Linked DNA regions of Homo sapiens. The protein of the gene in region 2 purifies or fractionates together with the protein of the main gene of each other region. This does not show direct contact. Each region holds a gene or a part of one and is shown on either strand. Other genes may lie near its edges.

Region 1 (7,026 bases), on a different chromosome or scaffold from region 2:
TTAAAATACCAAAATTTTTCTTCTGTATGTCAAATTTATATGATGAAAATTAGCTTTATTGGATTTCAGGGACTTTTCATTCCTATGGTTCATTTTACCTTTCTAAAATACTATATTTCAGTTTCATTTTCTTGGTTGTTTTACTTAATTGTACTGAGCCTCCTTCTCTTTATAAATGGTTCGCCCACACATGTACACACACTGTAACTGGAAAAACCACCACTAATCCTACAGTTTCTTGTGTTCTTCCAGCTTTCTTATTCTTCACAGAAATTTTTTAACTACACAGTGCTTCACTTCCTTATCAACTCGTCTTAATCCCTTTCCAATTCAACTTTACTCTGCCATACCACCCAATCATTATAGTATCAAGTCTCCAATGACCACTTCCTCACTGAACCCAAAGATTGCAATTTTCATGCTTCTCTGGTGCATCAGACACTAGTGATCAAGCATCCCATGTCACTAAAGCCAAAGACAAAAACATTTCATTGTGTTTCCAGTTACAACTCTTACACTATTCTTTATCAAATACACAAACTCATCAAATCCTAGGCTTCAATTTTACTTGGATAGCTTCCAATCTCCAGCCTACTCTCTCAACCTCTTCATATGTCTGTTACATGAAGGCATCTCCAGTTGTGCTACACAAGCATGGAAACTTATTGTACTAAAACCAGTACTCATCTCCTTTCCCAACCAGAAAATCTGGTCCCACATTACCTCCCTGTACATAATACACATTAAACGTTGAACAATACTTAGTCCAGGAGAAAAATAAACAGGTTTATGATACTCATATCAATTTATAAGCTTTTGGAGGAAATAGATGGTATTTTCACAATATACACAAAATGTGTTTGTGCCTTTTTATTAAATTTTACCCTTTGTTTTACTAAAAACAATATAACATTTTTTAAAAAGTGTAAGCAATCTTGGCCAGGTGTGGTAGCTAACGCCTGTAATCCCAGCACTTTGGGAGACCAAGGCGGGTGGATCGCCTGAAGTCAGGAGTTCGAGACCTGCCTGACCAATATGGTGAAACCCCGTCTCTACCAAAAATACAAAAAAATTAGCCAGGTGTGGTGGCGGGCACCTGTAGTCCCAGCTACTTGGGAGGCTAAGCCAGGAGAATTGCTTGAACCCAGGAGGCAGAGGTTGCAGTGAGCCAAGATGGCGCCACTGCACTCCAGCCTGCGCAACAGAGCAGGATTCTTGTCTCAAAAAAAAAAAAAAAAAAAAAAAGAGTGTAAGCAATCTTTAATTGGAGGCCATTTGGCTAAGATGGTCCTAGGACTCTGGGTTCCTATGTAAGCAAACTGAAGCCCAATGTAAACAGTGAAACAAAACTTAATCTTTGCTTTTTATTTTTTAATTATAAACTGACTATAGTTATATATTTATGAGGTACAAAGTGATGATTTATGAATACAATGTGGAATAATTAAATCTAGTTAACATATCCATGACCTCAAATTTTTTTTGTAGTGAAAACTTTTAAAAGTTACTCTTAGCAAGTATAAAGTACATTATTAGTCACTATATTCACCATACTGTGCAACATATCTCAAAGAAAAAAATTCCTCCCCTTTGACTATCATCTCCCCATTCCCCCATGCCTTCCCTCCAACCCTGGTAACCACTGTTCTACTCTCTGCTTCTTTTAGTTCAACGGTTTTAGATTAAATATATAAGTAAGCACATATGTTGTTTGTCTGCTTGTACTTGGCTTATCTCATTTAGCTTAATGTTCTCCAATCCATCCATGTCGTCACAAATGACAAAGTTTCTTTCATTTTTAAGGCTGAATAGTATTCCACTACGTATGTACACCAGATTTTTCTTTATCCATTCATCTGTCTAAGGACCCTTAGGTTGATTCCGTATCTTGGCTATTGTGATTAATGCTGCAATGAACATGGGAGTGCAGATATCTCTTCAACATACTGATTTCCAATCTTTTAGGTAAATACCCAGAAGTTGGATTGCTGGATCATATGGTAATTCTATTTTTAGTTTTTTGAGGAACTGCCACTGTTTTCCATAACGGTTGTACTAATTTACATTGCCATTAACAGTGTACAGAGGTTCCCCTTTCTCCACATGCCTTGCCAACACTTATCTTTCATCTGTTTGATAGTAGCCATTCTGACACATATTGGGGTGATATCTCATAGTGGTTTTAATTTGCATTTCCCTGATGATTAGTAATGTTGAACATTTTTTCATGTATCTGTTGGCCATTTGTATGTCTTCTTTTGAGAAATGTCTATACAGGTTCCTTGCCCATTTTTTAACTGGATTATTTGTATTCTTTCTATAGAGTTATTTGAGTTCCTTTTATATTCTGAATTTTAATCCCTTATCTCATGTATGGCTTGCAAATATTTCCTCCCAATCCATAGGATGTCACAACTTAATTTTAATCAGAAACCAACAACTATTCTCTAACAAGCAACTTTCTGCCAGATTGTACCCAAATAAGACAAACAAGTAGCTATGACAATCAAGTAATTTTTTTTTTTTCAAGACAGGGTCTCGCTCTGTTGCCCAGGCTGGAGTGCAGTGGCACAATCACAACTCACTGCAGCCTCAACCTCCCAGGCTCAAGCAATCCTCCCACCTCAGCCTCCCAAGTAGCTGGGACTACTGGCATGTGCCACCATGCCTGGCTAATTTTTGCATTTTTTGTAGAGATGGAGTTTCACCATGTTGCCCAGGCTGGTCTTGAACTCCTGAGCTCAAGTGATCCACCTACCTCAGCCTCCCAAAATGATGGGATTACAGGTATGAGCCACTATGCCCAGTCCAATCAAGTAATTTCTTTACTTCGCTTCCACATTCAGCCTGCAAAGGTCTGCCGCTTACTCTGTTAAAACAAGAGCTCCCTGAACTACTTCTAATTTTGGGTGCTGCCAAATTCATTAATCCTTTAACACAAAAACAAATTCTGATAAATTGATTTCGTCTAAAGTTTTTCTTTTAACAAAGTCAAAATGAAGTTACCAAGGAAGCCCTGAAGGCTTTTTGTGATAAGGCTTAAAAGATTACATGATAGTAAAAGGTTACATGCTGAAAGATTCTCAACTAAAGAGCCTTATCATACATCAAGAGCCAGAGTTTCTTACATATTCTTCTTGTTTCCAATCTCTTTTCCTCTTTCCAATACACGCTCTACTGTGCACTCAGAATTACTTACCTAAAATATGAAACTGAGGTCAGTAATCAAAATGTCTTCCTGCTGCATATAAAATAAATTCAAATCCTTTAATCTGGCATTCAACTACTTACCATCTGGTCAATCTGGTATCAGTGTATTTGTCAAATTTCACTTCCCACTGACGTACTCCCCTGCCCCTCATGCTCCAATCACACCACCCTCCTCATTCTTTAAGACCTAGCTCAAATGAGCGAACTAATGTTATGTGGCAAGCAATGACTATGCACTGAGACCACCAAAATAAATAAGATAGTCCCCGGCTATCAAGAATCATATTTGGTGGAGAAACACACAAGCAAACAAATCTATGTTATTTAATATAAAAGATGTGATATAAAATACAAGCAGAGGGGTGGGTATGGTGCTCGTGCCTGTAATCTCAGCAATTTGGGAGGCCAAAGCAAGGGGATCACTTGAAGTCAGTAGTTTGAGACCAGCCTGGGCAATATAGTGAGACCATGTCTCTACAAAAATGTAAAAATTAGCTGGGCATAGTGGCACATGTCTGCAGTCCTAGCCACTCTGGAGGATAAAGCAGAAGGATCTCTTGAGCCCAGAAGTTCAAGGCTGCAGTGAGCTATCATAAGGCCCCTACACTTCAGCCTGAACAACACAGCAATACTCTGTCTCTAAAACTAATAACAAATAAATAAAATACAACCAGAATACAGAAAGGCAAATTACCAATTCAAAGTAGCAGAATCAGAGAAAGCTTCATAGAAAAAACAAAAAGGTGTTCATGTGTCAGAGAATAATGGTTAACACTTATGTAGCACTAACTATATGCTAGATTCTATTCCAAGTGCTTTATGTATATTAACTCATTTAATCCTTATTTTCTACGATGATGAAAATTGCTTAAGTAAAACAAATGTAGTATCATTTATTGAACATTTACAACATGCCAGGAACTGTGCTAAGCACTGAACAGGAACAAAATGAAATTAAGGCCTACAATTTTAAAAAGAACAAAAAAGGAAGCCGGGCAAGTGGCTCACACCTGTAATCCCAGCACTTTGGGAGGCTTGAGGGGGCAAATCACTTGAGCCCAGGAGTTCAAGACCAGCCTGGGCAACATGGCAAAACCCTATCTCTTACAAAAAATACAAAAAAAATTAGCCAGGCGTGGTGGTGCACACCTGTAGTTCCAGCTACTGAGAAGGCTGAGGTGGGAGGATCACTTTAGCCCAGGAGGTTGAGGCTACAATGAGCCAAAACCATGCCATTGCACTCTAGTCTAGGCAACAAAGTGAGACTCTGTCTCCAAAAAAAAAAAAAAAAGTGAGAGATGGTAGTTATCTCATTTTGTACCTCCATTGGTAGGGCTTAACCCCTTTGAGATTCTTTCCATTTTTTTTTTCTTTTGAGACAGAGTTTCACTCTTGTTGCCCAGTCTGGAGTACAATGGCGCCATCTTGGCTCACCACAATGTCTGCCTCCCAGGTTCAAGTGATTCTCCTGCTTCAGCCTCCAGAGTAGCTGAGATTACAGGCATGAGCCACCACGCCTGTCTAATTTTCTATTTTCAGGAGAGACAGGGTTTCTCCAGGTTGGTCAGGCTGGTCTTGAATTCCCAACCTCAGGTGATCCGCCTGCCTCAGCCTCCCAAAGTGCTGGGATTACAGGCGTGAGCCACCACGCCCGGCGGAGATTCTTTTTTAATTAGGACAAAATAAAATAGGACTTTTTAAAACAGGATTTAAAAGATTCACCTAATTACTTATCTCCTACAGCCATAATTTTCTTTTTAAACAACAGTATGCCTTGCCCAATTTTTTCAACAGCATTGATTTATTCAACAAGTACTGGCTGGGTGCCATGGCTCACATCTGTAATCCCAACACTCTGGGAAACCAAGAATTCAAAAAATAAAAAAATTAGCTAGGCAGGCTGGTGCACACCTGTAGTCCCAGCTACTCAGGAGGCTGAGGTGATGGGAGGATCGCTTGAGCCCCAGAGGTTGGGATGGCAGTGAGCAGTGATCATGCAACTGCACTCTAGCCCGGGTGACAAAGCGAGACCCTGTCTCAAAAACAAACAAACAAACAAAAAAACAATGGATTACTCACTCTATGCAAGGCAAACTAAGCACATACATTTTCCTCCGCTTCCTAACAAAATCGCACTGAAATGCACTCATTCATTCTGGAAGAGAAAGCAGGTAGGATTATGCTGAGGATTAAGCCAGTGCAGAGAAAACTGCAGTCCAGAACACACACACATGCATACATGAGAAGGCTATAGCAATGTAGAAGACATTCTTGCCAGCAGAGCCTGGAGAGGTACCAATCTTAGAAACAAGCAGAGGAAGGACGTAGGACTAAAATCAGAATTATTATAATATTTATATGAAACAGCAAGCCAAACTTTTTACCACAGCCCTTTACACACAAAACGCCTGGCAGCAACAGTATTTGTTTCTGGCTAAAACCACATCTATTTTGTTGTTATTGCTCTTTTTAATTTAACAGTCTACCCTGGAAGCCTTTGAGCATCTTCATGTTCCATAACAAAGCATTCCTTATTTGGGTACAGGGTGGAAGGAGAGGAGGAAAGAGGCAACTCGTTTCTTGCACTTCACTCAAGGACCCTAAAGTTAGACCCAACAGCTAGTACCCTGCTCACTTACAAAAGAGCTCAATAATTTTTTTTTTTTTAGATGAAGTTTCACTTTTGTCATCCAGGCTGGAGTGCAATGGCGCAATCTCGGCTCACTGCAACCTCCGCCTCCCAGGTTTAAGTGATTCTCCTGCCCCAGCCTCTTGAGTAGCTGGGATTACAGAAGCCTGCCAAGACTTCCGGCTAATTTTTTTATTTTCGGAGAGACAGGGTTTCACCATGTTGGCCAGGCTGGTCTTGACCTTCCAGACCTCAGGTGATCTCTCAAAGTGCTGGAATTACCGGTGTGAGCCACTATGCCCCGCCAAGAATTTTTTTTTTTGAAGTAAAAGCACAACAGACAGAAAGGATGAAAATAAACAACTGACCTGAAAGAAGCAGAGCTATTTCCGGGAATGGGACATAAATATTTAAAAGTTATAAGTGTTATCCTCAAAGAAATTCATGTCATGAGAACAATGCATCCATTAAAAATAACTAGATGACTAGAAACTGTGGGGAAAAAACCACTGAAAAAAGAAAGTGAAAAGAACTGAAAATCAAGGAAATGGACCTCTTGGATTGATCCTTCGTATTATGTATTTTTTCTTTTTATATTTTTCCTCTGTATTTGGAAGAATCTATCTAAATGTATTTGGAAGAACCTATCTAAATTCTGAATAGAACAGAGAAAATGTCAAGAACATAATTAAAGAAATAATTGAAGAAAATTTCCCAGAAGTGAAAAATAGGATTCATAGAGTGCCAAGAAGGATGAATGAAAAAAGATTCACCACCTAGAAACACTGATAAAATATCACAGAACCAATGATAAAGAAAACAGTCTAATAAAATCTTCCAGAGAAAAAAGTATGATACCTGCAAAAGAAAGAGACTGGCATTAGACTTGTCATCAGATACACTAGACACAAAAAGCAAGAGAATGTCTTCAGAGTTTTGAAGAAAACAAAATGATTGTGGACTAAGTCTATTCCCAAGCTATCATTAAATGAGCAGGCAAGGTAAAGGCATTTTCAGACATATGAAGTCTGTGGAAATTAAATTACCTGTTTAATCCTTCCTGAAAAAAATTGCTTGAAATTAGTTATACCCCTACAAGGTGGGAAAAAAATCTATGACAAATGAGGACATGGAATACATAAAGCAGTAGACCTAACCCAGGCATGATACAAAAAAATCTCAGTAAA
Region 2 (7,747 bases):
GTACTTAGTATTTAATTTACCTCATTTTGAAAATATCCTGTGAGGTGATTATTATTCACCTCATTTTATAGATGAAAATGAGGATTAAGGAGATTAAAAAACATATCCATGGATATACAGCTTATAAATAGAAGAAGCTGTATTTAAAACCATGTTTGTATGACTCCAAAATTCTTACATTGATTCACATAGCTTTCTTACTCAAGTCAGATAATATGGTGAAGACATTATTTTTTCTCACTTTTCCTAAACTTTCTATGGTACTCATTCATTCTTGCCTACACACCTTTACTTAACTATGCTTTTTATCTACAATGATTCCAAAAATCAATGAATAAATCAGGACCTAAATCTTGTTTTTGTAAGCAGGGTATGGTAGGAAGAGCGCTATCTATGGAGTCAGGCAGACCTTGACACAAATCACATTCCAGAATTTACTGACCATGTGACTTGACAACTCCCACTGCCTTGTCTCTAATCCTTAGTTTATCATCCACCGGAGTTAATATTATTCGGCACACATGAAATGACAACAATCTACATATGACTATAGATTAAATAATGTCTTGTATTTGATGTATCCAGAACAACACTTGAATACGAGCTGGCACTCAACAAATTCTGGACTGTAAGCTCCCTGACACAGATTCCTGCATCTCACCCCCAATGCTAATCAGAAAAAAGAAGGTCACATTTGTTGCATTTAGTAGAAACACAGGAAAAGTCCATTATAGCAGTTGTCAAAACAGCTTGTAGTTGTCGATGTGGTATCAGAAAGAACCTACATTTTAAATCCATTGTTAATCCTAATATTCAGGTTTGGATACATCTAGTTTAAGCTAGCCTTCACCTATGTGCTCAATACTTTCTAAATTAAAAAATAATACTAAATAACTGAGGCTTTGACCTTTAAAAGTTGAGGAAAATCTCTTCAATGTAATCATATTTCATTTAGCATATTTATTTAAGTCAATAAGAGCTAGATGTTTATGATTAATTTCTATATTCATACTTTTCCAACAAAACAAATACATATTTATAATTCTACTGTACTAACATGCCAGTCATATTTCTACAGGAATTTCAAATGTAGTTCCATATCTCAACATGTGATACTACTTGCAAAAGTCAGATCAGTGGTATCTCATCACAAGTGTCAGTGTTGAGTTCATCATCCTGGGCCAAACTATAAAGAGAACCAACTACTTTTTGAACCATAAGTTGAACACTTGTGAAAGCCTTGTTACATCCATTGACGAATTTCATATAAACTATATTATACATGGGTGATTTTATTTGCCAATTATGTGATATTTATATGTTTACTATATCTAAAATTTTATTTTAAAGATGTGTCATTTGGTCATTGCTTTACACTTGTTTTCTAAGTAAAATAGAGGGAGTTCTTTGCCATGAGTGCATTACATAACACAGCTATAAATGAACATGGCTAATTGGCCTATATGGAACTTTTCCTTAGTCAGGCAGGTAACTTTCTTGACCCTCTAATGGGCATCTAGTTTCTCAATGTCAGATTCAATTTAACCAGAAGGCTTTTTGTGTATATAAGGGTCTTGCTCCTCTTTTCTGAACATTTTGTGTCTTCCAAGGTTGTGACACTTAGATTATTTTTCTCTTGTTATCATGGAACAAAATCTACTGAAATCCTGAAGGCAATATTATATGTTGTTATATGATTGTTCAGGGGCAGAATGATACTCAGTTCCATTAAGGGACAGCCTTTCAATGTCAAGAGACCAGAGGGTTTGTTAAAATTGGACTTACCGTCATAGTTCAAAGAGAACAATGTGGCCAATATGCGACCACTATGTGGGAAGAAAAATCTTGCTTTTCATTGCCGGCATGGTTTACAAGAATGATCTAATTCCTGAGAAGATTACTGAGATCAACAATAGCTTGCATTCAAAGGCTAGCCTTTAGGTTTTTATTTTTAAACTTTAATGATGGCAGATTACAATTTATATTTTAAGGAGGTGAGATGTTATGTTTGCATTTTGAGAGCTATATGAGTGGTCAAAGAGAGATAATCTGACATCCTAAGGCTTAGAACATGACTGCTTATGTCTGAGGTTCTACGGGTTTAAAAAATATACAGATACTTTAAAAAATAAGGTGAATACTGAAGACACTTATACAAAGAAATAATGACTCTTACAACTTTACCCAAATATATTCCTTAGTTCTGTCAGTTCTTTTTCCTTGATCTGCAGGTCATCTTCTAATCTTTCTATTGTGATAACATATGATTCACTGACTTTTTTCTTCCATTCATCTAGTAAAGAAGAACAAATGAGATTGATTCATAGTTGTGTTTTGCAAAATGTAGACACAGATCATAACATACAAGTAATCAAAACTGTTTTTTATTCTAGATTCTACAATACTTAATTTAAATTACTGATTGTGTGTTTAAAATGCAGATGTTTATATTTAAAATGCAATCATATTGAATTGTAGTAATGAAGAACCCATTCGATATTGGATAATATATTTACATAGAAAAATATATTTGACTTATTTCATTTGATTTTATTGCATTTTAATTATAGCAATCTCTAGTTGCAAGACGGTTTTTAGTTTTTAAATACTAGATACTTAAGATATAATTCTAAAATCCCTACATTCAGCAATATTCCAAATTTTTTTCTGTAACATTATACCAAGGAACTAAAATAATATTTTTGTAAGAAATTTCTTGTTTCCTATAAAGATCTTCAGAAAAAAATAATTTGAGTTCAGATAGTTTTTCAAAGACTTTCACAAAACATGCTGCCTTATCTTCCGTATACAAATTAACACATATTCCAATGAGTTGTTAGTTATCAGTAACTATAATTGAACCATATTACACTTAAGGAAATAAGAATAATTAGAATAATTACCAGTACAAGTTTGGGTTGGTCTAGATTTATAATTTCCCATTTATTATAAGTTTCTTCCTTTCTCCAGGGCAGTTCTTCAAGTTATAAGATTCCAAGTTCAAGTGCAGTGACAGTCCAGTTGAAAAATACTTTGATAGTCTGGCTAAAAATAAGCCCAACTGCCAAATGGAATGTCATGCAACAATGATAAAGAACAAAATCGTGTGTGCTTTCGAGGGTGAAATCATAAAGGGAACTAATCAGTCTGTTTAAAAGAACTGTATCAAAAATAAATAGCAAATGTTTCAATAGGATTATTTGCTTCCATCAATTATCTACCCATACATACTTTCATGGACCATTTATTTAACAGATAAATCTAGAAAATGATTCAGTTACATCCGAAGTTCACAAAAGAGCTGTTAAAACTACATAGACCTGTTTTCAAGATCATTTTCTCCTAAGCCAAAATAATGGCAGTTGGTAAAGAGTGGTAATAGAATGTGTCTACATACATAAATAAATAATAAAAATTCATTACCTCTAGCATATAACTAATAGAAATGAATGCAGGTTTGGCCTGTATAAGAGCTACATAATTATGTTTGTATGAAGAAATTCTCAACATAGACCAAGATTTATACTATTGTGGATTATTCCGACCATAAGAATCATAGATCAGAATGTAAAACATTAAGTTCTACAAATAGCAATTCGTAAAATAATAAATGACAAGAACAGTAAGATTAAGAATAAGAAAATTGAGCATTTGCTATGTGTCAGACCCTAGTTTACATGCTTTACATATATCTCATTATTTAATCTCATACATACAGTGCTGCTAGGTAGATATTATTCACAAATTATGGATGAGAAAACACAAAGTTACTAGTAAGTTGGAAGTCTGGAATCAGTTCTGACCATGTGACTCTAATATCCAAGCTAGATATTATTGATTTGTCTTCCAGAATTTCTCTTTCATGCACCTTCCATTTACTTTATTAGGACATTTCTCTTTGTATGCATATTGTATGCCTATTTCTACTGATATAAAGAACCCAGTCTATGATGGAGAATAAATGGGAAACCCAGAAAGAAAACATTAAATTTTTCACTATATATTTATTTCAGATAATCTTCTTATACCTAGAAAGTATAAATTTTAATCTTCAGATTCACATCCAGAGGATATAGCTTTAACTTAACAGATACAGATTTCATATTTTCTATAGTTAAATGTTCAAACAACTCTCTTTTTGAATAAATGATTAGACAAAGTTAGGACTCACCATATATTTTTGCTCAGCAAAAGTAATAGAAGTTTCAGAGGTAAGGCTTCCAGACTGATGAGATATAGTTGGCGCATCAGGTGTCTGGCTTCATAGACACTTTTTGTCCTCATCTGGACATATTCTCCTTTTCCCTTCTTATCAGTACATGCCTACCACAGCTGTTGATACTTGCTATACTGCAGTGGCATCTGGTTACCTTGGTCCATACACTCTACATTCTCCTTGTTTGAAAACCAGACATCTTCAGTTCCACCAGCTTTCTCTAAGCACTTCTGTGACCCCCATTTTCTCAGTTTGGAAAGTCTTTGTTTTGTCCAGGGACCTTCCTGCTTAATCTCTTCTTCCTTATCTTGAAGACCATACTGGATAGCTTTCTTTAAAAGACTTGCAATCTCCCAGGGCTACACTTTAGGAAATAATGCACCAGCTCTTTCTCCTCTCAGAGTTTCTTAAAATAATCATGGTTTCTATACTCTGAATCCAGAAGGACAAAGATGGGAGCCTTCTAGAGGACAACTAAATATATTTTTCTTGATCTCTTTTCTTATTTCTAATATCTCGGATCTTCCATCCGTGTGTGTGTGTGTACATGTATGTTTTCCACATATGGAGGAAAAATTAGCTCTTACATCATCTTCCACTGTGTTTCTAATTTCCTGCTTGGGACACAAGTCTGATGTACTGCTTTTTAGAATTTTTCCTTTTGATTTTCAAGAATACTTTTATTCTCTTAAAAAGCCTAGGTTTTACAAATGAAAGCTTTGGCTTTCAAAGGTGTGATTTCTGCGATGAGTTTGAAAATCCAATCAGCAACTCAGTTGAATTCTCCCACATTCTAATGCAATACATTTTGCTGGAAATAAAATGAAACGATAGCAATATAAGAAATGCAGAAAATTACTCAAAATATTACCCAAAATATTAACCACTATTGAACTATAACAGTTTCCTGGTTTGAAAGAAACAATATTTATCTCTAAGCCCTTCTTAAGAATGTGGATCTAGGTAATGGTTTGAGGTACTAGAGTAATTTTTTCTGGGTACCTTCAGCCTGATGAAGAAATGCTGGAAATGTAAATGGTCCAGGATAATATCCTTGCATTCCTTTTCCAAAGAATGTTGGAAAGAAACAACATAGAATCAAAAAATATTTTCCCTAATACTCAGTACATTTCTGTAAAAAGTACTTCTTTCTAATAAAGAGTTGGCCACATACTCTAAGTTGAATCCTACTTTCCCCAGTCCTGAGACGTCCAAAAGTGGAGAAAGCATGTTATATCATACATTATCAAAAACACAACTTGATTACAAAAGTAGTCTGCTTTCAAAGTTTAGTGAGGGTAGGCAACATGAGGAGCTTTGTTTAAAAAAATAGAAACCTGGGCTCCATCCCCAGAAATTCTGATTCAGTACATCAAGAGTAGAGCCCAGGAATCTGAACTTTAACAAGCAACTCTGATGATTCTAATGTAGATGCTACTTGGAGCATCATTTAAGAAGCACTATTTTAAGGTTGCTTAAAGTGAGATGCTACTTAACAGAAATTTTTTTACCTTTGAATTTCATGCAAGAGAAAAGAGATAAGTAGAATAAAAACAAAAGAAAGATTACTTCAGATTATCAAAGAGTTCTATCCTGTGGTAATTCCTGGGGCAATACATGATTTGGCTATGCAAGTATAGTCTCGTATTTTAAAAGTGATTCACAAAAATTGAACCAACCAAGATATTCCTTCATAAGTGAATGGAGAGACAAACTGTGGTATATCCAGAATATGGAAGATTATTCAGCAATGAAAAGAAAGGAGCCATGAAAATTCATGGAAGAACTTTAAATGTATATCACTAAGTGAAATAAGCCAGTCTGATAAGGCTACATCCTGTGTGATTTCAACTATATGACATTTTGGAAAAGGCAAAACTATACAAACCATAAAAAGATCAGTGGTTACAGGGGTAGAGGAGAGGAAGAGATGAGTAGGTGAAGCACAGGAAATCTTTAGAGTAGAGAAATATTCTGTATGATACTCTAATGGTGGATACATGACATTATCCATTTGGCAAAAATCATAGAACTACACAACACTAACGTAAACTATGGACTTTAGTTAAAAATCATTTATCAATATTGGTTCATTCATGTTAACAAATATACTATATAAGATGTTAATAAGAAAAATTGTGTGTGTGTAGGGGGAGTATATAGTAACTCTGTACTTTCTGATCCATGTTTTTTGTAAACTGAAAACAATTCTAACAAAATATTAATTTAAAAAATTATGGAAAAATATAAAACAAATGATGCAAAAAATAATAATTCCTTAAAAAGAGCATTTGAAGTACTCAAGGAAATTTAATAATTTATAAAGAAAAGCCAACTCAAATACATGATTAATAGTAAGGTTTCTTTCTTTTATGCTTGCTCGTTTCTTCATTAGAAAATGTCAGAACACATTTATGAAATATTATTTCTTCAACTACTTTGTTTCAACTAAGTTTGATATTCTACTGAATTGCCTAAATCTAGTTTTAATGCCTCTGTCTTTTCAACTGATTTCTCAGACCACTTCTGCATACAAATAGTTATATTCTAATACTCCTTCAATAAACCCACTTATGTTCTTTCTGCATTATTTTATTTGGGGTTTATACGATTTATTTATCCCAATCTACACTTACGCATCTGCTATTTATATTTATTTTATACTGATTTCTTTATAAAGATTTAAAAGGATGCTTTCAAAATGAAAAACGTAAAAATTGACCTTGACACTTCTACCTTTATGGTTCCAACAGAGAAATGATAAAAGAAAATGTATCCCATGAAATCAAACTAATGCACTTGGAACAATTATTATCACATTTAGAAGTTGAATTAATTTATACTTTGATAATTTCTTCATTGTATATTAGTCCTTATTAATATATTTCCATGTTTTGGGGAAGCATAGAGTTTCAATGCGTTGCATCTGGTTGACAAATTAATCATTGCTTTAAACATAAGAAGGTGGAATTACTAGTTAGTTTATATTTAGGTTTTTTTCCTTTATTTTTAATAAAGATTAAATAATTTGTGTTGAAATAAAATTATTTTAAAAATAAATTGACCATTGCCTAAGATGCATACAACTATTCAAGTGCACACAATTATTTGATTAATTTTCTTTTAAATAATGTGTTTCTGCATTTAAACAAGCATAATTTGTAAGAGTCTTATTTATCAAACAATTTTCTTTCTTTTTCACTAGAATATCTAAGTTTTTAGTATGTTGGATGATGTATAAATCACCATCATCAGTCTGAACATGTTGAGGTAATATTCAGATTAATCCTCAAAAATGAGTAAGACTTGAGAATACATTATAATGAATATATATTTATAATATGATAATATAATGTCACAGTAATTTAAGTATGTGTTCTCAGTATCTTTAACTGTCAGAGTATATTTTAAAAAGGAATAAACAATATTGCTATTTCTGTGTCCAATAAAGTATAACAGCAAATGCAAAGATCATAGTTTTTCCTGTGATTTCCTTTGTTGGTGGGTAAACATGAAATAAAGTTGATTAAA

What was found. The genes of interacting proteins can lie anywhere in the genome.
Region 1: the proteins of TNNI3K (region 2) and ASB3 purify together in Homo sapiens (affinity purification with mass spectrometry, with the first as the bait; 2 studies listed by BioGRID). This does not show direct contact.

What each region holds. Positions count from the first base shown.
Region 1 is NC_000002.12:53,776,928-53,783,953, forward strand, and holds part of ASB3 (ankyrin repeat and SOCS box protein 3), read right to left. Parts: intron 1-7,026. UniProt on the Homo sapiens protein: Probable substrate-recognition component of a SCF-like ECS (Elongin-Cullin-SOCS-box protein) E3 ubiquitin-protein ligase complex which mediates the ubiquitination and subsequent proteasomal degradation of target proteins. Recognizes TNFRSF1B.
Region 2 is NC_000001.11:74,230,648-74,238,394, reverse strand, and holds the start of TNNI3K (serine/threonine-protein kinase TNNI3K), read right to left. Parts: upstream 3,009-7,747; 5' UTR 2,944-3,008; coding exon 2,904-2,943; intron 2,294-2,903; coding exon 2,185-2,293; intron 1-2,184. Other genes in the region: FPGT-TNNI3K fusion protein, read right to left, coding at 2,185-2,293. UniProt on the Homo sapiens protein: May play a role in cardiac physiology.